Homo sapiens: one gene and its partners. The protein of the gene in region 2 interacts with the protein of the main gene of each other region in a pairwise test. Each region holds a gene or a part of one and is shown on either strand. Other genes may lie near its edges.

Region 1 (9,131 bases), on a different chromosome or scaffold from region 2:
CCTTTTGTAAAGAAATGGGCAACCATATCAGTCAGAGTAGCTTTTTCATATTATTGTTTCTATTATAGCTGGCAGAGTGAGAGACAAATTCCTTTTGGGGATGTCCGGCTACCACCTCCAGCTGACTATAATAAGGAGATCACAGAAGGGGATGAAGTGGAGGTAAGGGCTGTGGAGTACACCTTTCTAAATGTCACTTTTCCCCAGGATTCTAGGCTTTTCTCTGGTTGGTTCATGTTCCTTCCTCCCCAACTAAGCCATATCCAGCCATGTAGCCTATGGAAATGTAAAATGCAACAGTTCCCCTTTTATCACTGTTGTGATCAGCCAAACTCTCAGGAACATCCCCAGTTTCAGGCGATTTGCCTTCCATTTATGGTAACAACATCTAAAATCCAGTGCCCTCTGATTTTTTTGTTGTTGTTGTTGTTGTTGTTTTGAGATGGAGTCTTGCTCTGTTGCCCAGGCTGGAGTGCAGTGGCGCGATCTCAGCTAACTGCAACCTCCGCCTCTTGGGTTCAAGCAATTCTTCCACCTCAGCCTCCCAAGTAGCTGGGATTACAAGCACCTGCCATCATGCTCGGGTAATTTTTGCATTTTTGTAAAGACATGGTTTCACCATGTTGGCCAGGCTAGTCTTGAATTTCTGACTTCAGGTGATCCACCCGCCTCAGCTTCCCAAAGTGCTGGGATTACAGGCATGAGCCACCATGCCCTGCCGTCCTCTGATTTTAATTAGTTCCTTCCTCTGGTTTCTTGTATCCTTGGTTTAAGATACATCCCAGGCTGGATGCAGTGGCTCACACCTGAAATCCCAGCACTTTGAGAGGTCGAGTGGGGCAGATCACCTGAGGTCAGGAGTTCAAGACCAGCCTGGCCAACATGATGAAACCCCATCTCTACTAAAAATACAAAAAATTAGCTGGGCGTGGTGGCGGGCGCCTATAATCCCAGCTACTTGGGAGGCTGAGGCAGGAGAATCGCTTGAACCCAGGAAGTGGAGGTTGCAGTGAGCTGAGATTGTGCCATTGCACTCCAGCCTGAGCACCAAGAGCGAAACTCTGTCTCAAAAAAAAAAAAAAAAAGATGCATCCCAAATACCTTTTTTTTCTTTTTGAGATGAAGTCTCACTCTGTTGCCCAAGCTGGAGTGCAGTGGCGCGGTCTCAGCTCACTGCAACCTCCACCTCCTGGTTCAAGTGATTCTCCTGCCTCAGCCTCCTGTGTAGCTTGGAGTACAGGCATGTGGCACCACACCCGGCTAATTTTTGTATTTTTAGTAGAGGTGGGGTTTTACCATGTTGGCCAGGCTGGTCTTGAACTCCTGACTTCAGGTGATCAGCCCACCTCAGCCAAAGTCCTGGGATTATGGGCATAAGCCACCGCGCTTGGCCTCTTTTTTTTTCGTGGAAGTGGGGTCTCACTGTGTTGCCCAGATCGTTCTTGAACTCCTGAGCTCAAGAGATCCTCCCACCTTGGCCTTCCAAAGTGCTGGGATTATAAGCTTGAGCCACTGTGCCCAGCAGCCCCAAATATCTTAATGGTTGTTCTATTGTTTATGTTGCCCAAGCTGGTCTTGAACTCCTGGGCATAAGCAGTCCTTTTGCCTCAGCCTCCCAAAGCGCTGAGATTACAGGTGTGAGCCCCACCATGCCCGGCCTCCTCATCCCTTTCTTGATGCTTTTGGGTGGTCTTCAATATCTCTTTGATTCTCTACTTTTCTTTAGGTTTATTCTCGAGCCAATGAACAGGAACCTTGTGGCTGGTGGCTGGCCCGGGTGCGGATGATGAAGGGAGATGTGAGTGACTGGGAATGCCTTTGGAGAACTACTGAAACAAATATGTTATTCATAGAAAGTTGCTCAGGTCATCCACAACTTCTCCTTTTTTACCATGTGCCAGTTCTATGTCATTGAATATGCTGCCTGTGATGCCACCTACAATGAAATTGTTACCCTGGAGCGACTTCGGCCAGTTAATCCCAATCCCCTTGCAACCAAAGGCAGCTTCTTCAAGGTTACCATGGCTGTGCCCGAGGATCTGAGAGAAGCGTGAGTGTTAAGGATGGTGGGAATGAGGGCCCTCTTTACAGCCCTAATCTCTGGCTTTATTTCTCCCAGGCATCACTCCCACTTTGCAGTTTTCTCTGTTGTTCCCCTGGCCCTCTACTAGAGCCCTTCTTGCTAAGAAGACACTTAGTTTCTTTATTTTCCCATCCTTGTTCTTTAACTGTGGTCCCTCTTCTTTTCTTTTCCTTTCTTTCTTTTTTTTTTTTTTTTGGAGACAGAGTTTTGCTCTTGTTGCCCAGGCTGGAGTGCAGTGGCACAATCTCGGCTCACCGCAACCTCCACCTCCTAGGTTCAGGCGATTCTCCTGCCTCAGCCTCCCGAGTAGCTGGGATTACAGGCATGCACCACCACACCCGGCTAATTTTGTATTTTTAGTAGAGACAGGGTTTCTCCATGTTGGTCAGGCTGGTCTCAAACTCCTGACCTCAAGTGATCCGCCTGCCTCAGCCTCCCAAAGTGCTGGGATTACAGGCGTGAGCCACCGCACCCGGCCCAGTCCCTTTTCTTTTCTTATTTACTCAGCCCTGCTTCTCTGAATTTTTTTTTTTTTTTTTAATAGAGACAGGGTCTCACTATGTTGCCCATGCTAGTCTTGAACTCCTGACTTCAAGTGATCATCCTGCCCTAGCCTCCCAAAGTGCTAGGATTACAGGTGCAAACCACCATGTCCAGCCTCCCCCGAACTCTTCACTGTACTCTCTGCATTCTGCCCGCTGAGTACTTTTTTCCTCTGCAGCTGCTCCAATGAAAACGTCCATAAAGAGTTCAAGAAAGCCCTGGGAGCCAACTGCATCTTTCTCAACATCACAAACAGTGAGCTCTTCATTCTGGTGAGTTTATTCTGCCTGAATTTCACATAAGCCTTTTGAACATTTTTTCTTTTTCCCTTTTTAACCCTTTTGCAGAAAGAGAAGGGCTTAAATGTGCTTATATTTATTTGTCAAGAGGACTTTATTGCTCCTGACTCCTACAGGCCCAGGTAGCCCTACCTTTTTTTTTTCTTTTTTTTGAGACGAAGTCTCACTCTTGTCACCCAGGCTGGAGAACAATGGCACGATCTCGGCTCACTGCAACCTCCACCTCCCGGGTTCAAGCAATTCTCCTGCCTCAGCCTCCTGAGTAGCTGGGATTACAGGTGTGCGTCACCACGCCGGCTAATTTTTTTTTTTTTGAGATGGAATCTCACTCTGTCGCCCAGGCTGGAGTGCAGTGGCGCGATCTCGGCTCACTGCAACCTCCACCTCCCAGATTGAAGCGATTCTCCTGCCTCAGCCTCCCGAGTAGCTGGGATTACAGGCGCCTGCCATTGCGCCTGGCTAATTTTTTTTTGTGTTTTTAGTAGAGACAGGGTTTCACCATGTTGGCCAGGCTGGTCCTGAACTGCTGATCTCCTGATCCACCCGCCTCGGCCTCCCAAAGTGCTGGGATTACAGACGTGAGCCACCGCGCCCGACATGCCCGGCTAATTTTTGTATTTTTAGTAGAAACAGGGTTTCACCATATTGGTCAGGCTGGTCTTGAACTCCTGACGTCGTGATCCGCCCGCCTTGGCCTCCCAAAGTGCTGGGATCACAGGCGTGAGCCACCACGCCCGGCCTCTGACCCTTTTTTTTTAAACCTGATAATCATGTTGCCATCTGGGTTAGAGACCCTCTCTTGATATTTGGACTTTCAGAAATAGAGTATGTAGCTCTCACCTTATGCTTGCTCCTTGCTTTCTCTCTAAACCATTTTCCTTCAGTACCCTGATAGTCAGCCTTTGTGGGACTGACAATGAGTCTCCTCCTTCCTAGCTTCATTTCTTTTTTTTTTGAAAACAGAGTATTGTTCTGTCACCAGGCTAGAGTGCAGTGGCGCAGTCTCGGCTCACTGCAACCTCCGACTCCCGGGTTCAAGCGATTCTCCTGCCTCAGCCTCTGGAGTAGCTGGGATTATAGGCATGTGCCACCACGCCCAGCTAATTTTTGTATTTTTAGTAAAGACAGGGTTTCACCACGTTGGCCAGGATGGTCTCGATCTCATGACCTCGTGATCCGCCTGCCTTGGCCTCCCAAAGTCCTGGGATTGCAGGCATGAGCCACCGCGCCCGGTCTCCTAGCTTCATTTCTTAACCCTTTTCCCGGGACTTAGGCATCCTGATTTCTAGTCCCTGGCTCTCCCTTAGTGTTTATTCCAAGCCAGTTTTAATGACTTTCCCACTGGTTTCCTCCCAGTCAACCACAGAAGCCCCTGTGAAGCGAGCATCTCTGCTGGGTGATATGCATTTCCGAAGCCTGCGCACCAAACTGCTACTTATGTCCCGCAATGAAGAAGCTACCAAGCACCTAGAGGTAACTTTTAGCTCCTTTTCCTTCTGCTGAAGGGTATTGTCTTCCTCCCTTCCTACCCTGTCCTCCATCCATGATCTTGTGTTTACAGAACAAAGACTAAGGCTTTTTCTGGGCAATTAAACCTGGGTCAGCTATTTTATCTCAGACTCCTCCAGATGGCAGAGCTCTATCATGGTATAGTGCAATTATTTTCAAATTTCTTTTAGCCAATTTTTTTTTTTTTTTTTTGGGAGACAGAGTCTCGCTGTGTCGCCTAGGCTGGAGTGCAATGACACGATCTCGGCTCACTGCAACCCCTGCCTCCTGTGTTTAAGCGATTCTCATGCCTCAGCCTTCTGAGTAGCTGGGATTACAGGCGTGCGCCACCACACCCGGCTAAGTTTTGTATTATTAGTAAGATGGGGTTTTGCCATGTTGCCCAAGCTGGCCTCGAACTCCTGGCCTCATGTGATCCACCCGCCTCAGCCTCCCAAAGTGCTGGGATTACAGGCGTGAGCCACCACACCTGGCTGAATGGTTTTTTTTGAGACGGAGTCTCACTTTGTCACCCAGGCTGTAGTGTAATGGTATAGTCTCAGCTGACTGCAACATCCACCTTCTGGGTTCAAGCGATTCTCCCGCCTCAGCCTCCTGAGTAGCTGGGACTACAGGCTTGTGCCACCACACCCAGCTCATTTTTGTATTTTTAGTATTGATGGGGTTTCACCATGTTGACCAGGCTGGTCTCAAACTCCTGACCTCATGATCCACCTGCCTCGGCCTCCCAAAGTGCTGGGATTACAGACATGAGCCGCTGCGCCCGGCCTTGGTCTTGAACTTCTAGGCTCAAGAGATCCATCTGCCTGTACTTTGCAAAGTGCTAGGATTACAGGTGTGAGCCACCACATGCAGCCTAGACTAGAATATTTATTTTTTAGGGTGGGCGCGGTGGCTCACGCCTTTAATCGCAGCACTTTAGCACTTTGGGAGGCCGAGGCAGGCAGATCAATCCGAGGTTGGGAGTCGAGACTGGTGAAACCCCATCTTTACTAAGAAGACAAAAATCAGCTGGGCGTGGTGGCACATGCCTGTAATTTCAGCTACTCGAGAGACTGAGGCAGGAGAATCGCTTGAACCTGGGAAGTGGAGGTTGCAGTGAGCCAAGATTGCGCCATTGCACTTCAGCCTGGGTGACAAGAGTGAAACTCTGTCTCAAAGAAAAAAAGGATATGACTGGGCGCGGTGGCCCACGTCTGTAATCCCAGCACTTTGGGAGGCTGAGGCGGGCAGATCACCTGAGGTCGGGAGTTCAAGACCAGCCTGGCCAACATGGGTGAAACCCCGTCTCTACTAAAACTACAAAAATTAGCCAGGCGTGGTGGCAGGCGCCTGTTGTCCCAGCTACTCGGGAGGCTGAGGCAGGAGAATCGCTTGAACCTGGGAGGCGGAGGTTGCAGTGAGCCGAGATCACACCATTGTACTCCAGCCTGGGCAACAAGAGTGAAACTCCATCTCAAAGAAAAAAAGGATATTTCTTGTTTTTTTGTTTGTTTTTTGAGATAGCGTCTCTGTCGCCCAGGCTAGAGCGCAGTGGCGCTATCTTGGCTTACTGCAACCTCCACCTCCCAGATTGAAGCGATTCTCCTGCCTCAGCCTCCCAAGTAGCTGGGATTACAGGTGTGTGCCATCACACCTGGCTAATTTTTGTCTTTTTTAGTAGAGATGGGGTTTCACCATGTTGGCCAGGCTGATCTCAAACTATGGACCTCAGGTGATCCGCCCACCTCGACCTCCCAAAATGTTGGGATTACAGGTGTCAGCCACCACGCCTGGCCTGACTAGAGTATTTCTGTGAGATCTTTTTGAATTCTGACATCGTATAATTGTCAGATTCCCTTTCGTTGGTATTATACTATTCTAAGTGAATAGGGTGTGTGTGTTTGAATACCATTTCCATTTATCAAGGGAATTGATCTTTTTGGGAGGCTTTTTTCTGTGCCTGTGCAATTTCTGGGTCATGATAATCTTTGACTTCTTCAGGGATCCTGCTCAGGGCACTGGCAGGTAAAAATTCACCATTACCTTCAGATGATACAAACTTTATTTTTTGTTTTTGTTTTTTGTTTTGAGATGGAGTCTCAGTCTGTTATCCAGGCTGGAGTGTATGTAGTGGTGCGATCTCAGCTCACTGCAGTCTCTACCCCCCGAGCTCAAGTGATCCTCTCACCTCAGCCTTTGGGTGGGTGGGATTACAGGTGCATGCCACCATACCTGGCTATTTTTTTTTTTTTTTTGGAGACAGTTTCCCTCTGTCACCCAGGCTGGAGTGCAATGGCACAATCTCCGCTCCCTGCAACCTCTCGCTCCTGGGTTCAAGCGATTCTTGTGCCTCGGCCTCCCAGGTAGCTGGGATAATAGGCACGCGCCCCCACGTCTGGATAATTTTTGCTTTTTTAGTGTTTCACCATGTTGCCCAGGCTGGTTTTGAACTCCCGACCGCAGGTGATCCACCTGCCTTGGCCTCCCAAAGTACTGGGATTACAGGCATGAGCCACTATACCTGGCCCTAATTTCAGTATTTTTAGTAGAGACGGAGTTTCACCATGTTGGCTAGGCTGGTCGCGAACCCCTGGCCTCAAGGGATCCACTTGCCTTGGCCTCCCAAAGTGCTGGGATTATAGACATGACCCATTGCACCCGGCCTAATTTTTGTTGTTGTTTTTTAATTTTTTGAGACGGAGTCTCATTCTGTCGTCCAGGCTGGAGTGCAGTAGTGCGATCTCAGCTCACTGCAGCTTGTGTAGTTAGCGCAGAGTGAGCAAAGGGAGACCGATACAAAATTCGGTCAGAGAGTAGATCATGTAAGACATGTACGGTAGGCTGAGGAGGGGGGATTTTATTGTGCGTATACTGAGAAGCCATTGAGTTAACAGTGCCTTCTGGTTTTTTGTTTTGTTTTGTTTTGTTTTGTTTTTGAGACGGAGTCTCGCTCTGTCACCCAGGCTGGAGTGCATTGGCGTGATCTCGGCTCACTGCAAGCTCCACCTCCCAAGTTCACGCCATTCTCCTGCCTCAGCCTCACGAGAAGCTGGGACTACAGGCGCCTGCCACCACGCCCGGCTGATTTTTTTGTATTTTTTTTTAGTAGAGATGGGGTTTCACCGTGTTAGCCAGGATGGTCTTGATCTCCTGACCTCGTGATCCACCCACCTCGGCCTCCCAAAGTGCTGGGATTACAGGCGAGAGCCACTGTGCCCGGCCGAAAGTGCCTTCTGTTTTAAACTCCTGTTTCAATGACAGATGGAAAGGGGGGCAAGAATGGAAGCAGGAACAGAGCACAGTAGTCCAGGTGAGAAACTTGAACTGGAGTGCTAAAGGAAGAGAGAGAGAGTAGTTTTATGTAGGATAAATTTTACGAGTAAAACCAGTAGGACTGACAGGCTCTGTGATACTGAGAGATACATATTTGGTCTCCTGACCAGGCTCCTGGCATTCAACTTCTAAAATCCTTGGAATCTCCAGTGATGTGTGTTTTTGTGTGCTGATGAGTTGATTCATGGCTAGCCCCTCTAGGTGGCTTCATGATTAGAGGGTTGGAACTTTCAGCCTCACCCCCACCAACTTCCTGGGAGGGGAATGGGGCCAAAGGTTAAGGCAATCACTGAGGATCAGTGATTTAATCAGTCATGCCTAGTAGTGAAGCCTCTAAAAACCGGAAAGGGGCCGGGTGCAGCGGCTCACGCCTGCAATCCCAGCACTTTGGGAAGCCGAGGCAGGTGGATTGCCTGAGGTTAGGAGTTTGAGACCAGTCTGGCCAGCATGGTGAAACCCCTTCTCTACTAAAAATACAAAAAAAGGGAGGCAGAAGTTGCAGTGAGCAGAGATCATGCCACTGCACTCTAGCCTGGGTGACAGACCCCATCTCAAAAAAAAGAAAAAAAAAAAAGAAAACCCAGCTGTTCTGCAAGCTTATCTAGAAGACGCTTATAGGTCATTGTAGATCTCTTCCCCTCCCCTCCTAATGTAGTGATTTTGAACACTCAACTTAGTTTATTTTTCCAACTTTCTCTTCTTGCCTGGTATAAATCCTTGGTATAATTCAGTCCTATCCAACTTGGAAGTGGGAAGTAGTGTATTTCAATCTAGGAATGTCTCCTTTCAGGTATTGTTTCTATTTGGTGCTTACAACATGGGATTCACTCCTCTAAAACCTTTCCTGTCTTCCTGCCCCTGAACCCAGGGGTTCCTCTAAGGACTGATTGAGAAATGAAGTGAAAGCCTGGTGTTCTAGAGGCATGTTTTCTGTTTTTCTTAACCCCTCACTTTTTTTTGAGACAGAGTTTTGCTCTGTCACCAGGCTGGAGTGCAGTGGCATGACCTCGGCTCACTGTAACCTCCAACTCCCTGGTTCAAGCAATTCTCCTGCCTCAGCCTCCCAAGCAGCTGGGATTATAGGCACACCCCACCAAGGCCAGCTAATTTTTGTATTTTTAATAGAGATGGGGTTTCACTATGTTGGCAGGATGGTCTTGATCTCCTGACCTTGTGATCCACCTGCCTCAGCCTCCCACAGTGCTGGAATTACAGGCGTGAGCCACCGCGCACAGCCTACCCCTCACTTTTTACTTAAGTTGTTGAGTTTTATTTGGGGATGAGTTGATATTTGTTTGATTAAGGTAAGAGTTCCTTACACTTGCATGTACCTTGTGAGAAGTACTTTCACACCAGCCTTGTCTAATCCTCTTGCTAGTCTT
Region 2 (9,131 bases):
GTTTCACCATGTTGGCCAGGATGATCTTGATCTCTTGACCTTGTGATCCACCTGCCTCGGCCTCCCAAAGTGCTGGGATTACAGGCGTGAGCCACCACGCCCGGCCAATAATGGTCTTCTTTTAAAAATCTTGCATACTAGGATTCCCTATGAAAATGAGACCAAAAATAACTTATTCAAAGTTATTACTTTATGAAATATCAGTAATAAATTCTAGGTTTGAAACGCTGAGATCGTAAATGAGGGAGTATTTATTTCCACAACTCGTGCGCACCCCAGCACTTGACAGATGAGGCTAGTCCTGCACCAGCACTGACTGGTGGCCACTGCTGCCAGAAGCAGTCTTGTGAGGGGTTCAGTCACGGAGGCTCGGCAGCAGACAGCACCCAGGTAGACTGCTAATGGCAGCCATAGGTGTAGAAGGAATCTGTGCCACACATTTGCCACCCCTGAACAATGAAGTTTTTCTAATTATTAGATTTTTAAAATTCCAGAGACAAAAAAACAGAGACTACTTAAAAAGAAGACCAAGGGATAAGAAGCAGAGTTCCCAATGCATGTACCTGAGAAATTCCTTGTAGCCAGCATAGTTGTCAAGATGGCACCCTGTGAAAAAAATTAGAACACAAAAGTCAGTGTTGCCTATGCAAATTCTGGACCTAACAAATATAGAGTCTTTGATAACAAATCTTTTCCTGGCCCTACTTTCAGTTAGGGGATTTTTTATTGTTTGTTTTTGTTTTTTGGTTTCCTGAGAGTCAAAGGCCTTTGTCTCTCATGATGCTGGGACGGCCCTAGTGTGCGGGCCAGATTCTGATTATCAAATTGCACAGCTGTTTTCCACTGAAGGAAGGATCCACAGCATGTGTTGCCAGGATGATTCCAGCTTTTCACCATAGTTTTGATTCTGGTGTATATTCCATTTCCCAAGAGCCCCAAAAAGAATAATGAGAGTATTGAGGTCTACATAATTGAAAGCCTTTGCTAGAAGTTATTTTCCTCACACAGTATTTCACTTCTTAGTCTGTCAAATCTACCTCCCCATAAAAATGTAAAATTTCTTACCTTTAGTTTTCTTCTAGCATTAAATTTCTTCAAGCAGTCTACAGTCTCCTGTCTGTGCATCATGGAAGCAACAGTAGAACGTTGCTAGAAGAAGAGGAGAAAAAGTAACTTAATTGAGAATATTTAAAACACACTAAGTATAATAATGTCCCTGACTTCATCAAATATTTATTAATGGTGCTGCACCTGCAGGATCAACTTCTAAGTATTCAATTGCCAAAGTTACCTAAAAATAAAATTTTAGTTTTGCCAAGACTACTTGTGACCAAGATGCAACACTGACGTATAGAAAGTATAGAAATGGGCCGGGCGCGGTGGGTCACGCCTGTAATTCCAGCACTTTGGAAGGCCAAGGCGGGTGGATCACGAGGTCAGGAGTTTGAGACCAGCCTGGCCAACATGGCGAAACCGCATCTCTACTAAAAATACAAAAATTAGCCGGGCGTGGTGGTGGGCACCTGTAATCCCAGCTACTCGGGAGGCTGAGACAGGAGAATTGCTTGAACCTGGGAGGTGGAGGTTGCAGTGAGCCAAGATCGTGCCATTGCACTCCAGCCTGGGTGACAAGAGCAAGACTCTGTCTCAAAACAAAACAAAACCAAACCAGAAAGTATAGAAATGAATATTAATAATTTCTCAAATTATCTTTATTTTAATGTCTTCAATCACATTTTGATTGAGCTGCCTTTCATTTACTTAGTGCCACATTTATCACCTTAGCATTTGACACATTTGGAAATTTACTGAAGTCTCCAGATCCCCCTCAAATTTCACACTATTCTTCTTAATATTTCTAAAATATATTCAGACTACTATGACCATTATTTTACGCCACTGAAACTCTACTGTCAGCTGCCAAACTTCATACTTGTTTCTAAAGTTGCCTAATGATAAATAATTGAACTTTGTTAAATCTTTTCTTCTGGGACACATTTAATTTTGGTGTTATTTTCTTAACCTTGTTCATGAGTATTGTTAATAATTGATATGGAGAATACTCATTCCTTTTGTTACTGCAAGCAATATTTATTTAAGAATCTATGCAATTCAGACTTTGCTACTGAAAATTGCATTTTTTCACCATCATAAAATTAATTTTCTTAAACACCTCGAGTCAAAAATTCATTCATTCTGAGTTTCATCTTTTTTTGCAAAGCTATTTTAAATCCATAAACAATATATTAAAGGAGAGCTTATTTTTCATTTTAGTTCTTGAAGTTTTGGAGAAGTTTTACTTACACAGATCCATGGGTGCTTCAGTGCCTCTGAGGCTGTGATGCGTTTGGCAGGGTTGATAGTAAGCATTTTATTGATGAGGTCTTTGGCTTCAGGAGTCACCGTGTCCCATTCTGGTGATGGAAACTTCAAAAATATAAATTTATAAAAAGTTTAAAAAATAGACACACTCGATCAAACAGGGAAGAGTCAACTACATGAATCATTCCCTCAAGTAGTGAATTTCTTCATAAATTTACTTTTTATATAAGTTAAGTTGTATCTAAAATAAATAAAACCATTTAGATCTATTCTCCCCCTCTATGTAGACAACTATATATATTAAAGAGTATCTGATAAGGGACCAACATATGTACTGAGCTGCATATCACATATGGTAAATACATTTTAAAATTCAGAAAAAAAGAACTTAAGAATCTTCTATTCTTCTCAAAGTATCTCTGCTTTGATCTGAAAATGAAATTTTATACAATCTTTCTCATAATTATTTGCAAAACTTAATAAAAGCAAACAGGTTGCTACATGTACCAATGTCATCATGATATTATGCCAAGGTTCAAAATGAGGTATTATATACTTTCACAACTCATAAGCAGTAATAGCAGAGGTAATAAAACAGCTTCAATTCCTGTGCCAAAACTGACCTATTAATCAGGGCTACTTGGAGTGCTGTAGTGAGAAGAATCTGAGACTACAGGAGCTTCAGCAAGATTTCATTTTAACCCTTCAAGAAGTTTAATCTGCCCAATTACAAATTTCACCAAAGTATATGAAAGTAATCAAATCTTATAACTTCCCATTACTAATACTTTTTTATATTAAGACTATATAAGAAAGCTACTTCTCCTTTCTTTACATTATTTTTTGTAGTGATAATTACTTAACTTACTTTTATATGATTAGCATATTTAGTAGAAATACTGTCCTTCAACGATGAAGGGAAATTTACACCACATTAGTTGCAAAATGATAGAATATCAGGTTATTTTCCCAATTCATGAATTTGTATGGACAATCTTGAAAAATAAAGCCATTGCCACTGTGTCATGGAATTAAATTAGTCCATTTTTAGTAGTTTTAAAATGGGGAACTTGTGACTCACTGGCATAATAAAGCATGAGAAAAATGATATTGACTCTAATATCTGTAATTTTTGCCAGCTAAACAATTGCCATTTTTTAATTCCTGAAGCTTATCTTTGGCAGTTGTAAAAGCTTGCTAACTATTAGGAGCTGTTAAAGAAACACACGAGGCTGTTTCTTAATGTTGTACAGGTCTTCTGATAGCAAATGAGCGGTAGGTTCAGCATGAAGAAAGGTGAACATTTTCCTCAGTTCTCTAATTTTCATGAAAGCATTCCTCTAGGTATACCAAGCAGTGCATTTTCAGGGCTACGTCTGCCCAGAGAGGGGCTGGTTCTAGTCTGTAAAGATGGTGAATGTGCTAGCTATTGCCATGTAAATAATAATTTGTTCCAATTACTAGTCTAGGAATAATGCAATGCTTTGAAATTCAAAGAATATACATTTTTAATTCTTGCTGACACACACATCCATCTAAATAGAAAATTTTTATCAGAAATGCATTGAAGAGTTCACGAGACATTATAGAATATAATAAAGACATTTTATATCTTCTCCTCTCACTTTCACATTGAGCTTTCAACTTGTGCACAAAAGGTGAACCCAATATTGCTACTCTGTAGTTACTCTACTTAATAACACATGGAAAGCATGCCCAGACCCTGCACATGGATTTCCATAGGGCTGTATGAGGGGAAACCTGAGAAAGTGGTAAATCATATTTACAAGAATATGTATCAAAGGAGAGCAAATTATATCATAAACACAAAGTTAAGCCATAAAGAGAAAGTAGATAAAGCCTTCCTCTTCAGATTCTGAACTTAATTTATGAATGTATATATATATATCTACTTTCAAATATTCTAATTATAAATTAAATATATTATTAGAATTATGATTTTCAAATTTTTCAATTGTGAAACTCATTCTTCAAATGAAAGCTTGCATAGTATCCCAAACAGTACAAAAACAAAAAACAAAACCCAGAAACTGGTATAGTGGGATAATGTTCTATTTGATATGTGATCACAGCAAAATATTGTTGGTATATAATATAAAATTATGTGATAGATATTTGAGAATATAATTCAACTAAACAGGCAATAATCATTTCTATAGCAGAAATATTTTAATTTTTATGTTTTTAAAATGCACTAAGGTCCAAATATTTTGACAAAGTTCTTCCTCAGAGACTTCACATGGCTTTTCTTTCAATCTTAGGAGACAGTGAGTTAAAAGGAAACGTAAACTGGATACAAATGCTGCATTTCTTTCTCCCTTTCCTTAAGAGAGAGGGAAATAATATGAGAAAGTGGTAAAAATTATGGTTAAAAGAAAAATGAAAAGATCTGGCTCTTGGTCAACAGGCAAAAGACAAACCTTCATCTAAAGTGATATAAATAGTTATTACATACATCATAAGCTCCAGCCTTGATCTGCTGATAGAGTCTGTGTTGGTCTTCATCCCAGAAGGGTGGATACCCCACAAGTAGAATATAGAGAATGACACCTGGAGGAGAATATAATGTTAACACAATTTAAGTCATATAGACAACAGTAAATTAAATGTGGCTGATCCACAATGATATTAAGCCGTAGTTGTTAAAACAGAGAAAACTGGATTGTAGGAAAACTTCAGAAAGATGTGTTATGATCTAGTCTAGAGCAGTCTCTGGAGGGTGAATGCTTCTCCTCCTATGCTCCAGAACTCTGACAATGTGTCAGTCAATGCATGCATCAAAGAATTCTAAAGAGGCATGGCAGGGCAACATTCATTTAGGGCAACATTCTTTGGCCCCCCTGAACTCTTGTCTATAGAGGGTCTTACTGCATTCTTATCTATATAGAGACTATGATTTTAGTCACTGTGAGGTTGAAGTTTAAAAACTAAGCATGTTTTTTATTTCCTCATACTTGTTTTGATGGTCATTGGGACATTTTGTTGAGTGATGGTGTCCTGGTTATAAATCCACGTTCTAAATAACCATAGTCCCTGCAAATGTGGGTACCCCATAGAGACAAAACCCTTTTCTTTTCAGTAATCTTAGTCTTCAAATACTTCAAGCCTTCTCAGTCAAACAACTAAACCAACAAGACTACAGAAGAATATATATTATGGGAGAGGAAAAAGGGAGAGAAGGGAGAAATTCCACAGAAAATTCAAAGTAATAATAACAATAAACACATGGCTGTAATAAAATTTGCTAAAATTTTTCACAAACATAATTATTTATAAATTAACCAAAATCTAATTTCACTTTTAAAATTAAAAAAATTCTGTATTCACAGTTTGTAAATTTCCCTGAAATCATATCTGCAGTCTAAATGTCTGAGATTGTTTTGATACAGTGGTCTTCTCTGTCATCAAATATCTCTCCTGCCACTTTTCACGTATTTTATTGCCTTGCTTAAGGCCTTTGGTTTCTTTCCTAGCTCATTATCCTGGAGGAAGGCAGTCATTCCTCTGACCTCTCCTGTTTGCTTTTTTCTTGCTATGTTTCCTTAAGCCTAGGAAACCTGAGAAGAAGAGTAAGACAGGTGACACTTTGCCAGGTGTACCCTGAGACTTATTTTTTCCCTTATCCAAGGTGGTCTCTTGGTCTCTGTACCTAGGAGATCTATCCCTGCTCCTGTCCAGCAGTCTGGACATCTTTATACAATAGACACTGTAGCAGCTGAAATGGTTTTTAAGCAATGGTTTAATCATCTTAGAATTTTATAGCCTGCTTCAGGAAGATACAGTTCATAAGCAGATTTTTTAAGTCATGTGAATCAATACAAGGATAAAAAATTTTAAACAACATTCTTAAGGAAAAAAAAAAGACCATGAAGAAAACCACAGTATATTGGTACCTCACCTTCATGACATAAAAATAATTTTTCCATACATCTAATGAAAATGATGATAGTAATGATGATGATGAGTGTTTCTCTTTGTGTTCTCAGGAGGCAAGTAGAAAAAAAGCTGTACCTGAGTAGTTTTAGCCCTCAGCTATATAAGGTTCCAGGAGGTTAAGAAGAAAATTTGCTTTGTAATAGTGATAGTTTCCATTGAATATGAACATTTTCCTAATACACATCTGGAATTAGGCTGTTATAGAATTATGAAATAGTGGCTCAACTGAGACATTTAGCATTCTCAACATAGGCTGTTTGTCCTTATGAATTATGTCTGCAGTTGACAGTTGATGTGGTGCTTCTCTGGGAAGAGGAAGCTCACAGAGGGCTCATTCCATGAGAAAAGCAGGCAATATGTAATAGATGCCCACAATTTAGCTGTTTGATGGAGGAGTGTTTACAAAAACATGTACTTTAAATAAAATAATAGCATAAATGTGAAGATTAAAAAAAACACTTTTAGGCCCAAAGACTTAAAAAAAAAACATATTATAGGTGCTATTGACTAGCCTGATGTGAAATTGTCAGTGCCTATTTAAATAAACACCGTTTTGTAAGTTTACTTCAACTTGATTATTAAACAAGCATCTAAAACCTTTCTGAGTTATGCTATTTTGTAGTTCTATTTTCTGAATGTATAGAACAAGTATGAGACTCATGGCATAAGGATAATGTAATACTAATAAATTTTATTGTAGATAACATTTATTCAGAGTTATGTGTGCTTTAATGCATTATCTCATTTAATCCTTGTATAATGCTATGAGGTAGATATTGTTATTATCTGCATTATATTATAGATGAAGAAACAGGCTGAGAGATTAAGTAACTGTTTCAACCACAAGCAGGACAGACATAATGATGCTCTAAACATTCCCTGCAGCCACTTTTTCTTTATCTATGAACTTTAGTAGGAATGATAATATAAAATTTAAAACTTTGTGTTGTCTAACTGAGAGACCTTGACATACTAGCAAAGATGTCCATTTGGTCCTATCTTAAATGTTCCTTGCAGCTACTTTTTCCTTTAGCTAGGTCCTCTAAACAAATGCTTATTTTAAAAGTGTTTGTTGTTCTAGGCCGGGCGTGGTGGCTCACACCTGTAATCCAAGCACTTTGGGAGGCCAAAACGGGCAAATCACCTGAGGTCAGGTGATCACGACCAGCCTGGCCAACATGGTGAAACCCTGTCTCTACTAAAAATACAAAAAAATTAACCGGGCATGGTGGCACATGCCTTTAGTCTCAGCTACTCGGGAGGCTGAGGCAGGAGAATCGCTTCAACTCAGGAGGTGGAGGTTGCAGTGAGCCAAGGTCGTGCCACTGAATTCTACCAGCCTAGGTGACAGAGTCTTGTGACTCTGCCTCAAAAATAAAAATAAAATAAAATAAAATAAAAGTGTTTGTTGTTCTAATTGAGTTCTTGCCTCATGAGTAAGCCCAATTTATCTTTTTAATAAACCTAAATTTTACCTTTTTTCTATGTCAGAGAAAAAAGAAAGGAAAAAATCACTAGCTCTTTTTCTTTGCCCATATACCTAAAGTACTAAAATCATTAAAAGTCAATGAAGAAGTCTTTTTTTTGCGAGACCACTTGAGGGGTGATGATGTGACCTCCAAATGTTGGGTATCTCTCATGACACTAGCAGCCTTTTATGATTACTGCCTACATAATTTTACTGGGGTTGCAAAATAATGATGGCTGGGCATGGTGGCTCACACCTATAATCCCAGCACTTTGGGAGGCTGATGTAGGAGGATCACTTGAGCCCAGGAGTTCAAGATTAGCCTAGCCAACATAGCAAGACCCTGTCTCTTCCAAAAATAGAAAAATTTAGCCAGGTGTGGTGGAATGCACAGCTAGTCCCAGCCACTTGGGAGGCTGAGGTGGGAAGATCACTTGAGCCCAGGAGTTCGAGGCCACAGTGAACCATGATCACATCACTGCATTCCAGCCTGGGCAACAGAGTGAGACTCACAAACAAACAAACAAAATGATGATACTCTAATTATATCATGCTTTCTTTAGACTAAGAAAATCTTGCTCCTTATCCACTTGGTTGGCCTAAGATACAGTTCATATAGGAAAGATAGGCTATTATTTATTTATTTTCCTCTTTACTAGCCAGTTTTTAAAATAACGCATTGGCTCCCCAACATCCCCCAAAGGTTAGGACTTCTGTTGAATTTTGATTATCATTATCAATTCCTGGATTTAAACTTACTTGATGTATTTCAATCTATTATGTTATTTTTCTTATTGATTCTCAATTGCCCCATCTTTGGCTAGTGCCAGCCTCCTCAAAGTGGTTCCTGCATCTGTTAATATAAACTCTGTGGTCCTTAATAGTTTTTCTTTGTGGTATGACAAGATGCTCCTGGATCATCTTGCTTTTTTCCTGTTCTAAACTTGAAATCAGCTGCTATTACAGAAAGTTCTGGTTCCTTTTAATGGTAAATAGTATCTAGAGACCAAGATTGAGCACTTACATGTGCTGTCTTGGAGCTACAGTTTTCTTTGAAAAATAAATCAAGAAATAAGGAGACAGAAGAGAGAATGGAGCAAAAATTACAAATTAAGAATGACTAAGAGACCTAAGAGACCAAACAAGATTATGACAGGAGAGGATAAATAGGAAAATGACTAGATATTTTGATGTTACTAAGCAATAATTATTAAAATTTTAAAACTAATATTACTGTCATATTTAGAGTCCTTTTCTTTTAGAGATATACTTTAAAATATTTATAGATGTATTGATACAATGTTTCAATTTGGTTAAGATAATATTGGAGTGGGAAATGAAAGGGAGGAAATAGATGAAATAAGATTAGCCATCAGTTTATTAT
Region 3 (9,115 bases), on a different chromosome or scaffold from region 2:
TATATAATACAAATAACATACAAAATATGTTAACCAACTTTCTGTTATTGGTAAGGCCTCCTGTCAGTAATAGTAAAGTTTTTGAGGAATCAAAAGTTATGTGCAGATTGTGCAGTGGGCTGGCTCCCCTAAGCCCCAAGTTGTTCAAGGGTCAACTGTACTCCCCTCCAATGCACATAAGATGGACACTTATGAAATGGAGCCAATGCCTGCCCTGCCTCCCTTGTGAGGCTATTCGGTATAGATACCCTGATGATTGTTTCTCTTTCTTGGCAGTAGAAAGAACATGGGCCTTGCAGAAAGACAAGAATTCTGGCCTAATCGCTCACTACACTTACTACAGAGGATAGAATTCTGGCCCAAGGATGTTTCACCTTGACCAAATTTCTTTTTTTTTTTTTTTTTTGAGACGGAGTCTCGCTTTGCCCAGGCTGGAGTGCAGTGGCACTATCTTGGCTCACTGTAACCTCCGCCTCCTGGGTTCAAGTGATTCTTTTGCCTCAGCCTCCTGAGTAGCTGGGACTACAGGCACCCGCCACCACGCCCAGCTAATTTTTTGTGTTTTCAGTAGAGACGGGGTTTCACCGTTAGCCAGGATGGTCTCTATCTCCTGACCTCGTGATCCGCCCGCCTCGGCCTCCCAAAGTGCAGGGATTACAGGCATGAGCCACTGCGCCCAGCCCTTGACCAAATTTCTAACCTTTTGTGCCCATTTCCACAAGTGTGAAACTGAGTTTTCCTATACCGCAGGAATTTTTTAAATTAATTATTATTTTTTTTTAGACAGGGTCTTGCTCTGTCACCCGGTTGGAGTGCAGTGGTATGATCATGGCTTGCTGCAGCCTTGACTTCCTGGCCTCAGGCAGTCCTCCAGCTTCAGCCTCCTGAGTAGCAGGGTCTGCAGGCGCACACCACCATGCCTGGCTAGTTTTTAAAAATGTTTTGTACTTACTATGTTGCCCAGGCTGGTCTCGAACTCCTGGGTTCAAGCGATCTTCCTGCCTCAGCCTCTCAAAGTGCTAAGATTATACTGCTCAACCTTTTTTCAAGAGGATTAAATGGGAAAGTACATGGAGAAACTTTTAGTCCAATCTTCCAAGCAGCAGCATGCAATGTTCATTTCTTTCCTTCTCCTTCCAAATTTGACACACTGATACATCTGCACTACTCGCACTAATTTGTGCACTGTCTTGTTTCATCCCATTGTTTTACTGCTTCGGTAGAAGGTCCCTTCACTTAGAAAACAATTTCCTACCCCTGAGCACCAAGAGGAAAGAGTCCAAGGAACTAAGTCTGTGTAGGTTCAGTGGTTTGCAGATTCATGCTTTGGGAACTCTTTATTCAAATGAAATCTCTCTTGGAACCGTGATATAAACAAAACAGACAAAGTCATTTTATTAGCATTCCTTTATTTTAGAAGTTCACACCTATAATTTTATAACAATCGTGAAAATGTTACTCAGAACTAGATGTTTTGATGACACATAGCAGAAATCTGTGGTTCAAGATGGTCATTGCAAACTTAACCAATCTCAGCATTCTATTCTGCCTTTTGTTTTGATTGCACAGAATCAATATAATTCTGATTCATATGGAAAATAACTTAATATCTTAACCTCCGCTCAGGATCTTCATCATAAATGTAGGTCAGTACATACCTAAAAATTGTCAATGATCCAACATGGTCACATGTGACATGCTACACTTGCACCTAGTACCAAACAAGCTGATACTTCAATGAGATCTGGTTGGCATATACACCCAAGCCTTGTCTGTCCCCTCAGAGCACTGCACACAGATAGTGAAAGAACTTGTGTACAATAAGAAATTCACAGGGATGAGGCTGGGCGCAGTGTCTCACGCCTGTAATCCCAGCACTTTCAGAGGCCGAAGCAGGTGGATCACTTGAGGTCAGGAGTTCGAAACTAGCCTGGCCAACATGGTGAAACCCCGTCTCTACTGATAATGCAAAACTTAGCTGGGCGTGGTGGCACATGCCTGTAGTCCCAGCTACTCGGGCAACTGAGGCAGGAGAATAGCTTAAACCTGGAAGGCGGAGGATGCAGTGAGCCAAGATCACGCCACTGCACTCCAGCCTGGGTGACAGAGCGAGACTCTGTCTCAACAACAACAACAAAGATATTCACAAGGATGAATTTAAATAGGTAAATGGCAGTGTAGAACTACATCCTTCCTAGTCAATTACACCTTTAGGAGACTTTAAATAGGCACAGAAACGACAAAGGGCTTATACTGAGAATTGCACAAAAATGAGTTACTTGGCAGCACAAGGTAGGGATTGTATGTGTCACAAGAGTATATAGACTGTTCTACCTTCATGCTCTACTCATTGCCATATCCCTTCGTGGTTCCCTGAGACTCAGGTGAAATTACCTTCCAATATTGCCTGGAGAAGGGCCTCCTCCTCCTCAGCTGCCTCATAATCCTTTATTAGTACCAATAACTGCAAGAAACCAGGGGCTGGGCCATCCTCTGGCAGATTAAGCTCTCTGCGAATTGTTTTGTGGACTGCCCCAGCAATGACTTGGTCTAGGCGGGCCTGATTCACAGCATCTCTCTCAATTGCTCCTCTCTGTACCAGCTTCTGTAACAAAGGCTCCAGCCTTAGTACATAAGCCGACAACTTTTCCTCATCCTTCTGGTAAGTGGTTAGATATTTGACCTGCAACTCCCTAGGATTATCTGTAACCCCAAATACCTCCTCAAGAGCCTGCAGACATTCATCGACAGTAATTAAAGGATTGTTTATCTTGAGGACACGAATAACATCAAGTGCTGGGCCTCGAAGGCTCTCTAGCAATCGCCTTCTCTTCTCTACATCTGGCACCTGCCACGCCTTTATCATCTGAGTAGTATGAAACATCCAGCGTCCAAATTCTTCTTCTCCTGGTTCTGGAGACTCCCTGCCCGAGAACACTCTCAGCTTTTTATACTTCAAGCATTGCAGGGCAGGCTGAAGAGCCTCTAATGCCTGTGCCAACATAGGGGCCCACATTTCCGGGATCATGCCCTGCTCTGGGTCTAAGGAGCCATTTTCATGTCCAAGAGCTCTGCTCAACTCACCCACTGTCATGCCCTCTCCCGCTAAAAATTCATTTAATCTGCTTAAAAATGTATTATCTGGGTCAGGGGGCTTAAAGATCACTCTCCAGATACCCCCTTTTCCCGGTATCTCCTTAGGGACCAGGGCGTGACTAGTCTCCGCAGTAAGCCCTACTAAGGCTACTTTCCTGTTCTCATCCCTCCTGAACATCCTTCCAAGCAGTCTGTACTCCCCCAAGGGAGCTAAACCAGCCTGCAGAGCCTCCTCGATTTCTGCCACACTGCAGCTCTGGGAGATGCCGGCAATCAATAGCGCTTTCCGAGGGTTCATGTCCATCCCCCTGCACCAGTCTTCTAAAAGCCTCAAAGTCATGGTGCCCGAAATAATAGACTTAAGTTCTAAATATGCCAGACCACAGGCGACCACCGAAATTCAAAGTAATCCTCCGCGGTACCCCAGAGAAATCTTGTCAACGTGCCGAGGTCCAGCAGCCTGCAAGACAGAGCAGACAGGTTAGCTAAAGGTGCCAACGTCCAGGGCAAGCGTGCAGGCCCCAAGCCCCGCGCGCCCTGCCCCCAGCGGCGACGCCAGGGCAGCCGCACTGCGGCGCGCGCCCCTCACCCCTCCCAGCCCTGGTGCCTGGCGGATGTCGGGCCTGCAGGGCCGCGTCGGGCCCGCTTCCACTCACCGTGATCTAGTGCTCGTGCCCGCGTCCGTGCGCCGGCGGCCAAGGTGCCTGGCCGGGCCCCGACGAGGCGCGGGAGGGCAGGCTCCCCTAGGCTCTGACGGACACTCGGGGGCCACAGCGACCGATGCCGGTACTCCAGGTGCCTGTGGTACTGTCTGCAACGAGAAGTGATGGGGCGATGACAGTCGCGAGCGGGCACCAGGGGGCAAGGCTGAGGAGCGCTGAGTCGCCAGACCCAGAGAGCCACCCACCTGGAGGGACGTGCCGCCACCCGCGCCGCCGGAGCTCCGGCTCCAGCCCGGATTCCACCTGTTTTGGTCTCGCTCGGGGAAGCTGCGCGGCGGGCGGGGGCGATCTGACGTCATGAGGGGCGGGCCTCGGGGGCGGGGCGCGCGCGCTTCCGGCCCGAGCCGGAAGCTCCGACTGCGGCGGCATCCGGGACGGCGGGCGGGCTGGCCACCACGGGACAGGAAGGTGAGATCCGGGACCTCAGCTTTGCAAGCAGGCTCCGCCGGCGACCGCTGACGGGCGCTGGGCTCGCGGCGCTGCAAGGCGGCGAGGCCCGGGCCTGGCGCCGCCTGCGCAGCCTTGGTCGCGGCGTGCCGGCGCTGCAGCGCGGCAGGGGGCGGGGCCGGCCGCCCGGAGGCCCAAGTGGCGGGGACGCCTCCCTGCCGGGTCAGGTTCTCAGAGCGGGTCTCCGGCGGCGGCGACGGGGGCCGGGCCGCGCGTGACCCGCCGCAGTCACGCCGTTCTTAATCACTAGTAGCTGGTGCTCCAGGCTGGCGGCGCTCACCTTTCTCCTAGCCGGGTGACCCAGGGGATTTATTTTATGTTGGCTTTCTCTGAAATGCCAAAGCCACCCGATTATTCAGAGCTGAGTGACTCTTTAACGCTTGCCGTGGGAACAGGAAGATTTTCGGGACCATTGTAAGTGCTTAGGAGTTACTGTCTTAACTTGGGGGCTTGACTTGTAGCACCCCGCGTTCACGTCTGAAGCAGTACTGTTATGCCAGAAAGTGTTTCACCTGTCAAAGTGAAATGTGCTGTGAGAAACTAGTTTAATTCCAGTTTCTGGAGGGCGGGTATTATGGACCTGTTTAAGTAGGATGCAGTGATTTATTCTGAGGGATTCCCGTTAAAAAGCAGAACTCAGTATATACTGAAATCAATGGTTTTTTGTTTTTTTGTGTGTGTTGTTTTACTTGATTGTAAGTATTACACAAAACAACCTGTAAGTTTTACATTTCTTAATAGGTGTTTAATTTAATTATTTTAAATCTTAAGTGTGTTAGTGGGATATTTTAGAATTCTTTTTTTTTTTTTTTAATTAGACAGAGTCTCGCTCTGTCGCCCAGGCTGGAGTGCAGTGGCGTGATCTCGGCTCTCTGCAAGCTCTGCCTCCTGGGTTCACGCCATTCTCCTGCCTCAGCCTCCCGAGTAGCTGGGACTACAGGTGCCCGCCACCACGCCCGGCTATTTTTTTTGTATTTTTAGTAGAGACGGGATTTCACCATGTTAGCCAGGATGGTCTCTATCACCTGACCTCGTGATCCACCCGCCTCAGCCTCCCAAAGTGCTGGGATTACAGGCGCGAGCCACCGCGCCCGGCCTAGAATTCTTGGAGATAAAGCAAGTACATTTGGAGTAGTTGCCGTGACAGCATTACTAGACCCTAATTGTATTTTCTTTTTTAATTTGAAGGCACAGAGCATGGAGAATGATGAACTTCCGTCAGCGGATGGGATGGATTGGAGTGGGATTGTATCTGTTAGCCAGTGCAGCAGCATTTTACTATGTTTTTGAAATCAGTGAGACTTACAACAGGCTGGCCTTGGAACACATTCAACAGCACCCTGAGGAGCCCCTTGAAGGAACCACATGGACACACTCCTTGAAAGCTCAATTACTCTCCTTGCCTTTTTGGGTGTGGACAGTTATTTTTCTGGTACCTTACTTACAGATGTTTTTGTTCCTATACTCTTGTACAAGAGCTGATCCCAAAACAGTGGGCTACTGTATCATCCCTATATGCTTGGCAGTTATTTGCAATCGCCACCAGGCATTTGTCAAGGCTTCTAATCAGATCAGCAGACTACAACTGATTGACACGTAAAATCAGTCACCGTTTTTTCCCTACGATTACAAAACTGCCAGTCCTATATGGAGTCTGATCACAAGACTGCAGTTTCTTCACAGATCTCAGGAAGTTGTCGTGGGGCAGAGGCTTTTTAAAAACATGTGATTAGGGAGCTATCTTTATCTGAATAATAACGAATTTTTAGGTAAAACCTGAGATAGAGTACTACAAAATCATGTTGATGACTTCAGATTTTGGAAGTTAAATCATGTCTGTTATTTGCATTCTTTAGAAACTTGACTAAGTACCTGAATTCATATTTCTATTCTACTGTGCAACATAGTGATGATTCAGAAATTTTTCCTTTGGGGAAAAAAATGAATATGAACATTTCCATTGTGTTAAGTGTAAAAAGGTCCAGACATGATCATAAAATTTAAATTTTATACAATTACTTGGCTTGCTTTAAAATTCTTCACACTTAAAACACCGATTCATTCTATTGCAGCTAAGCCAGCTGTCTAGACTTGCTGTCAGCTTATGAGGCATTGCTAAAAAATTATTGAGGAAATGGCTGTCTTGATAAGCAGAATTTGTTCTTCCTCTTGGTAATGGCTAAATTATTATTAATGCTTTTAATGGTTTTATTTTTTATATTTTTCTTTTTTGTGGAGAATGGGGTCTCGCTATGTTGCCCAGGCAGGTCTCGAACTCCTGGGCTCAAGCTTTCCTCCTCTCTCTGGCTCCCTAAGTGCTAGGATTACAGGTGTGAGCTACCATGCCCAGCTATTTTTAATTAAAAAAATTTTTTTTTTCCATGACTTGTGACACAGTCTCAGAAGGCCCTGAGAACGTACGCTCCAATGCTACTGATTTAGAAAACTATCTGGGAAGAAACTAAGTGTTAAATGTTGAAAGGCTAGAAATAACTTACAAATAGAAGATGGAAACAATGTGTTCAATGAAAATCTAGCAGGTTATTTATTATTTATTTAAATTATTATTATTATTTTTGAGACGGAGCCTTGCTTTGTCACCCAGGATGGAGTGCAGTGGTGCAGTCTTGGCTCACTGGAACCTTCGGCTCACTGCAACCTCCACCTCTCGGGTTTAAGCGATTCTCTTGCCTCAGCCTCCTGAGTAGCTGGGATTACAGGTGACCACCACCATGCCTGGCTGATTTTTGTTATTTTAGTAGAGACAGGGTTGCAGCATGTTGGCCAGGCTGGTCTCAAACTCCTCACCTAACTAAGGTAATCCACTTGCGTCAGCCTCCCAAAGGCCTGGGATTACAGGCATGAGCCACCATGCCTAGCTGTATTTATTTATGTTATTTATTTTGAGATGGAGTCTTGCTCTGTAGCCCAGACTGGTGTGCAGAAGTGCGATCTCAGCTCACTGCAACCTCCACCTCCCAGGTTCATGCTATTCTCCTGCCTCAGACTCCCGAGTAGCTGGGATTACAGGCACCCACCACCATGCCTGGCTAATTTTTGTATTTTTAGTAGAGACGGGGTTTCACCATGTTGTCCAGGCTGGTCCCGAACTCCTGACCTCAAGTGATACACCTCAGCCTCCCAAAGTACTAGGATAACAGGCATGAGCCACCATGGCCAGCCTATAGCAGGTAATTTAGTCCAGTCCTTATCAGATGCATGAGACCCCTCTAAAAGATGCTATCAAGTCATAATCTTTCTGATTTTCTTTTCTGGCCCAAGGTCAGGTCATCAGGCAGTAGGTTAATTACATGAAGATGTGTTCCTGTACCTTCTCCTTTGCATTTGTACTACCTCACATCTGGTACTAATACAAATAACTAAAACATGGACACAGTAGCATTTCTTTTCTGCATGAGATCAAGATATATTTTTATACAGTTATGTCATTAATACTGGAAAACATTTTATGCTTTTAATAATCAACACTTTTTGATGCTTATTCTGTTGGGCCCTATTCTAAGAGCTTTATGGAAATTAACTAATGTAATCCTCCCAACAACCCTATAAGATGGGTATTATTATCCAGATTTCACAGATAAGGAAACTGAGGCAGAGAAGTCAAGTAACTTGCCAAAGGTCACAGCGAGTAGCAGAGCCAGGGTTATAACCAGGCATTCTAACGCCATCGTTACTAACCACAGAGGCATAGCGCTTCTCACAAATGACAAATGTTTTAGCACTGGGTACTCTTTGCCCAGTCATGCCAAAGAATGGAAATGGCAATAGTATTGACAAGTTTTTCTCTATTTGTCTACTAGAAATCTGAAAGTTTCCTAGCAACCTCATCTTTCCACTACATCTGACTGAACCCGAAAGGAAGGCTGAGTATTCCATAGCAAGCTGTTACTTAAAAGATAAAGCAGGTACCTTTGTGATGTAAAAGTAGCAGATCAGATCCTTCAGATCAATTAGTCTCATTTATCTCACTGCCTCCAAAGGTCTAGTTACTGAAATGATATATCTTTTGATATAACACGTGGAATCCTCAAAGTAAGCAGCAGTTTGAAATACTTGTTTTTGTGAGGGTCAGATGACCAAATCACTTGCATCTTTTAAGTATTCAGTATGCATGTTACAGACATTGTTTATGAGTGATTTACATTTATTCTTCACAACAGTCCTGGGAGGCAGGTATTATACTGCTACTAGTGTCATTTTACAGAAGAAACCTGAAACACGTAGGAATAACTTGTCCATAGTCACATAGCCAGTATGTGAAAGAGCCGATTTGAACCTAGGATGTTGGCTTCAGATCTCCAGCTTTTTATCATTCTATACTGCTTCTCAAAAAGGAGAGTAATTTGAGGGAAATCATTGAGAGTTGCCAGTTTTATTAGTCTTGAGGCAGTGATTTAAGAAAATTATTTCAGTTTTGTTTTGTTTTATAAATGCTTTATGTAGGCTGGGAGTGGTGGCATCTGTAATCCTAGCACTTTGGGAGGCAGAGATGGGAGGATAGCCTGAGCCCAGGAGTTCATGACCAGCCTGGGCAACATGGCGAGACCCCATTTCTATTAAAAAGGGGTGGCTCATGCTACTCCCAGCACTTTGGGAGTCTGAGGTGGGCAGATCACTTGAAGCCAGGAGTTCAAGACCAGCCTGGCCAACGTGGTGAAACCCTGTCTCTACTAAAAATAGAAAAATTAGCCACGGCTGGTGGTGCATGCCTGTAATCCCAGCTACTCAGGAGGCTGAGGGAGGAGAATCGCTTGAACCCAGGAGGGAGAGTGGCAGTGAGCCAAGATCGCATGGGCCACAAGAGCAAGATTCCATTGCAAAAAAAAAAA
Region 4 (4,723 bases), on a different chromosome or scaffold from region 2:
GAGGTTCTCTAGTGTTGAAACTTCAAGATGGCGAGCCTTAGTACAAGTCCTATTTTCATCCATTGTGTTGTGTGCTCCCATACCCTATTATTCTAGAAACTCATGTGTTTAACGATTTCCTCTCTTCCACTTTCTGTTCTTTCTGGAGTTCCTATTACTTGGATATTGAATGGTCCTGGTCTGATCCTAATCTTTTCCTTTCTTTTTTCCTCAAATTTTCAGGTTATTTGCTAAATTTCAGCTTCCAACCATGCTACCGAATGTTTAATTTCCAAGAACATTTTCTTGTTAACAGTTCCTTTTCTATAGTAGTCTATCTTTATTCTACAGATGCCTTTTCTTTTCTCATCTCTCTGGAGATATGACAGGTTTTTGAAGCTTCTTCTCCATGTAGTCTCTGATTCTTCCAAGTTGTTGGTTTTGGGCTTTTCATCCACGTTAGACACTTTCATCAGATATCAGGTTATCCTTGGTTAAGATGAAAGACTAAAAAGCTGATAGGGGATTGCTGACTGAGAGTTTCACTTTTCAGCAATGGTTCTCAATTTCATATACACAGTGAAAGCGCCTGGGGAGTGTTAAAAAATACTGATGCCTCTGCAATACTCATTTTATTGGTGTAGGGTACGAGAATTTTGAAAAGCTCTCTAGGTGATATTAATGTACAGGTTGAAAAGTACTACCCAAGAGTGCTCTGGCTGAACCATTTCATTGAAGATTTTTAGATTTTTAGATTTCTTTTTTGTTGTTCCCAGCCCATGAGGCTCTTTGTAATGTTCTTCCATAAGCCTATGTTCACTAATTTGCTTTTGATATGGTGCCTTCATTCTCAACTGTGGATCGTGTCTCCCAGTCCAGGGACTTTCTATTTGAACCTTCTCCTGAGGATACACCTCTAGGCTTCTGCAAGAGTGATGGAGGTGGGTGGGGAGGAGGGACATTTTTGTCCAGCTGAAAAAAAAAAGGGGGAGGGATTTTATTGATCTAACTGCATTTTAAACAGCTTTCAACCAATACTATTTTAGCCTCCTCTCTCTCTTCACTATCACTTCAAAGGGATATGTTGCTGTCAATTTTTGAGCCTTTAGGGTATCCTGCATTGAGAATAAAAACACTGATGCTCATTTTCTCCTCTGCCAAATTAGAATTAAGTTTTGTTGATCATATTTCCAAAATTCTGGTGCCAATAACTCCTCTTTCTTCCCAGTCTTGAGGGTTGAGTTGTGACTTAAAAAAATAAAAAATCCTTTACTTTTAGTGGTGTCAGGAGCATTCAAAATTTGATGTGCTCAATTTGTCATCTTTACCCAGAATAATTACCATGCTTCATATAAGTGAGGTTCAATAAAGTGACAGTTTTTTTTACCCATTTTCCTGAAAAATAAAAGAGATAGTGGGAATTCCTACTAAGACAATCTAAAATCACAAAACCATGGCCATAGCAGGAACACTGTGTTTTATTGCTGTTGTTGTTGTTGTTGTTGAATGAGACCTGCAGGAAAGGACATGAACACTCTATAGAGTTCGTCAGGGGAGAGGAAGCACCCAGTGTGCCAGGTGAACAGAGGGAGATCTGGACTGAGTTTTGGTAGACAGATAAAGTATTAGGCAACAAGGTACATTATCCACAGAGACTCTGATAAAGGATTAAACTGGCAGCCTGTATAGTCCACAATCACCTTTTAGTTGGCCCATGGAGGAAATCTGGATATTTAGCTTCTTTTGAAACATGGACATATGTGATTGTGGCTCACAGTCCTCCAAGGCCTTGGTCAGCAAGAGCTGAGCTGCTGCTGTCTCTGCAGAAGGCCACCTGCCTGGCCTCCAAAAACACGTGAATTTTCAACTAATCTGAATGTGCTTTAAGTATTTAAAAGGGAAGAATAAGGCTGGGTGCGGGGGCTCACACCTGTAATCCCAGCACTTTGGGAGGCCGAGGCGGGCAGATCACGAGGTCAGATCGAGACCATCTTGGCCAACATGGTGAAACCCCGACTCTACTAAAATTAAAAAAATTAGCCGGGCGTGGTGGCGGGCACCTGTAGTCCCAGCTACTTGGGAGGCTGAGGCAGGAGAATGGCATGAACCCGGGAGGTGGAGCTTGCAGTGAGCCGAGATTGGGTCACTGCACTCCAGCCTGGGCGACAGAGCAAGACTCCAACTCAAAAAAAAAAAAAAAATTATCCGGGCATGGTGGCGAGTGCCTGTAATCCCCAGCTACTTGGGAGGCTGAGGCAGGGGAATCACTTGAACCTGGGAGCTGGAGGTTGCAGTGAGCTGAGATCGCGCCACTGCACTCCAGCCTGGCGACAGAGCAAGACTCCGTCTCAAAAAAAAAAAAAAAGAAAGAAACAACAACAACAACAACAAAAGCAATCCTAGTCATGGCAGAAAAACCCTATTTAAGTCAGAAAGAATTAAAACATTTATTGGGCATAAATATATTACATATACACTACAGATACAGTTAGGTATTACATATAGCATAATATTTGCAAAATCTATACATTAAAATTGATATGGCAGTTTTAATACAATGTATATGAAATAGTCTAAAATTTACAATACAGGAAAACATGATTTTCTTTTTCTCCTAGAGTTGAAAAGCTTGGAATGTATGTCCAACAGTGAGGTAAAACATTTTATCTTTCAATTTAAAGAATTGTGCAAGGATAACATTCAAACACATTCAATTAGGGCACTTCTCAATTTTGACATGAATACTGAATTATTGTAGCCAACAAAACAAGGTTAGAAAATGCCAACATTTCAAGTTGATAAGAACAAGGCAGAGAATATGCAAAAAATCTCTTTAAAAAGTTTTCTTTTTCAACAATTTCTTTGAGGACAAAGGGCAGTTTGCTTCACATGACTGGAATTTCTTGTGCCAGGGATGAGTTTGACATACAGAGAAGAGTCAGAGCATCAGAAGGCCACTCATTCACTCCTCACATAGCAAAAGGGCAAAGAGATCAGGTTAATAGAACACTTTATTTTATTGTTCGTGTGTGATGGCAATATATATAGTTATATATCAATATCACATATACATATTTGTGATAAAAAACAGTGCCATAGAGAGTAATAATTTTCTGACTGAAGGAATATAATGAATACCAAATAATGGAGAGCAATAAAATAAAGTGCTGTCAGCTTTGTACTTCACACACTTCAGCTTCCTGGTGGTTAAATGATAGTATGAAAATCTCAAGAAGATCAAATATTCATATAAATTTTGGCCTAAAGTACTATTTACTTAAAAAAAAAATTCAACCAATTAGAGAATTTCTTTATAGCAGCAGTTCTGAAGTGTTTCAAAAAAGAGACTTCCCCAACCCCCCAAGAGGGGGCTTTGTACTCAGTTGAATTTTCATTGCTTAAAAAATACCTCTCCCCAAAACACCTGCATGGAATTTTTTAGAAAATGCAGATGCTGTGGTCATAGTGGGTCATAGCACACATTTAAATAAGGGGGTGAGTTTTGGAAGGCCAGAACTTTGGCAAAAATATATTTACCTTGATGCCATCAGTTTGCAAAGCTAATTAAACTAATTATTATAGTCAATAATAAAATACAGAACTCTCTAGTACTCACTACGTCAATATAGGCACACAGAATAATTCATTGATCTCAGCATTTTCTTCCAAGAGATGATTATGGTTTTTGGGTACATGTAAACGTTTCAATCACTGATAATGTATTTTTTTTTTGGCATTTAATGCACTAGATGCTCTTATCTTTTTAAAAACATAAGAAAATGTCAGAAGATTAATAATACTACAGATGTTGCCAAGGAACAAGACTGACCTAAAATTACAAAAGTATAAAACACAAAAATATAACATGCTACAAGGGAAAATTAGTACATAAGTACACTTAAAAAATTTTACAATAAATAAAGATTGCACTGTAATTGGCATTTAAAGTACTGTATGCAGAATATAGTATAAATAAACCAAAAACAAAATAATGTTTGTTTCCCCATGACTTTGGTATGGGAATATTATAAGCTAGTACAGGATACTGCATCTTAGACAATAAAGATCAAGCACAAAATAGCTATGATCAAGAAAAACCAAGTAGCAAAAATATACAAAAACAGAAGCAGGGGGATACACTGTGTCTGTTGCACCCTTTTGGAATATATTTGCACCTCCAACTCTTAAATGTCCCTGAGGTACTCGAACATTATGGACTTCATATAAATAATCCAATGACTTTGGGTTAAAATTGATTATCTCATGACTCAAAATAAACACGTAAGAGTAACACTTTGCACTCCAATAGCACCTGTTGGTCAAAGATCTCAAAGCACTTACAAACATTAGAATCCCCGTTTTATTTTATTTTATTTTTCATGCATGGGAAAACTGAGGCACAGAGAGGTAAAGTGACGTGTTCAGGTCACGCAGCAAGTTAGTGACAGATCCAGGGAGAGAATCTAGGCTCCTTGATCCCCAAACACCCTGTGTTTACCATCAAACACCATTCCCTCTCCAACCATGGCCAGGCAAACCCACAGAAATAGGAACTACAAATTTAGATGACTCTCTTTTGGGTTTTATCAATTTTCATCTGCTGTTACATTAGTATTATGTGCACTGAATTAAGGTATTGAAATTCAATCACTTCATTGATACCTCAAAGAACAGCCTAAAGGCAAATGTTTCAAAAATAATGAGCTGACACATAAGAAGACTGCTCACAATTAGTGTAAATCAT

What was found.
Region 1: the proteins of CAMK2D (region 2) and FXR2 interact in binary tests that used the Homo sapiens proteins (3 or more experiments, as listed by UniProt).
Region 3: the proteins of CAMK2D (region 2) and MOAP1 interact in binary tests that used the Homo sapiens proteins (3 or more experiments, as listed by UniProt).
Region 4: the proteins of CAMK2D (region 2) and FNDC3B interact in binary tests that used the Homo sapiens proteins (3 or more experiments, as listed by UniProt).

What each region holds. Positions count from the first base shown.
Region 1 is NC_000017.11:7,596,676-7,605,806, reverse strand, and holds part of FXR2 (RNA-binding protein FXR2), read left to right. Parts: intron 1-68; coding exon 69-162; intron 163-1,726; coding exon 1,727-1,798; intron 1,799-1,901; coding exon 1,902-2,050; intron 2,051-2,804; coding exon 2,805-2,898; intron 2,899-4,281; coding exon 4,282-4,398; intron 4,399-9,131. UniProt on the Homo sapiens protein: mRNA-binding protein that acts as a regulator of mRNAs translation and/or stability, and which is required for adult hippocampal neurogenesis. Specifically binds to AU-rich elements (AREs) in the 3'-UTR of target mRNAs.
Region 2 is NC_000004.12:113,512,765-113,521,895, forward strand, and holds part of CAMK2D (calcium/calmodulin-dependent protein kinase type II subunit delta), read right to left. Parts: intron 4,894-9,131; coding exon 4,799-4,893; intron 2,428-4,798; coding exon 2,305-2,427; intron 1,150-2,304; coding exon 1,066-1,149; intron 607-1,065; coding exon 564-606; intron 1-563. UniProt on the Homo sapiens protein: Calcium/calmodulin-dependent protein kinase involved in the regulation of Ca(2+) homeostatis and excitation-contraction coupling (ECC) in heart by targeting ion channels, transporters and accessory proteins involved in Ca(2+) influx into the myocyte, Ca(2+) release from the sarcoplasmic reticulum (SR), SR Ca(2+) uptake and Na(+) and K(+) channel transport.
Region 3 is NC_000014.9:93,180,807-93,189,921, forward strand, and holds MOAP1 (modulator of apoptosis 1), read right to left. Parts: upstream 4,092-9,115; 5' UTR 4,004-4,091; intron 3,908-4,003; 5' UTR 3,753-3,907; intron 3,557-3,752; 5' UTR 3,437-3,556; coding exon 2,381-3,436; 3' UTR 1,393-2,380; downstream 1-1,392. Other genes in the region: LYSET (lysosomal enzyme trafficking factor), read left to right, coding at 4,600-4,679, 5,454-5,865.
Region 4 is NC_000003.12:172,398,382-172,403,104, reverse strand, and holds the end of FNDC3B (fibronectin type III domain-containing protein 3B), read right to left. Parts: 3' UTR 1,436-4,723; downstream 1-1,435. UniProt on the Homo sapiens protein: May be a positive regulator of adipogenesis.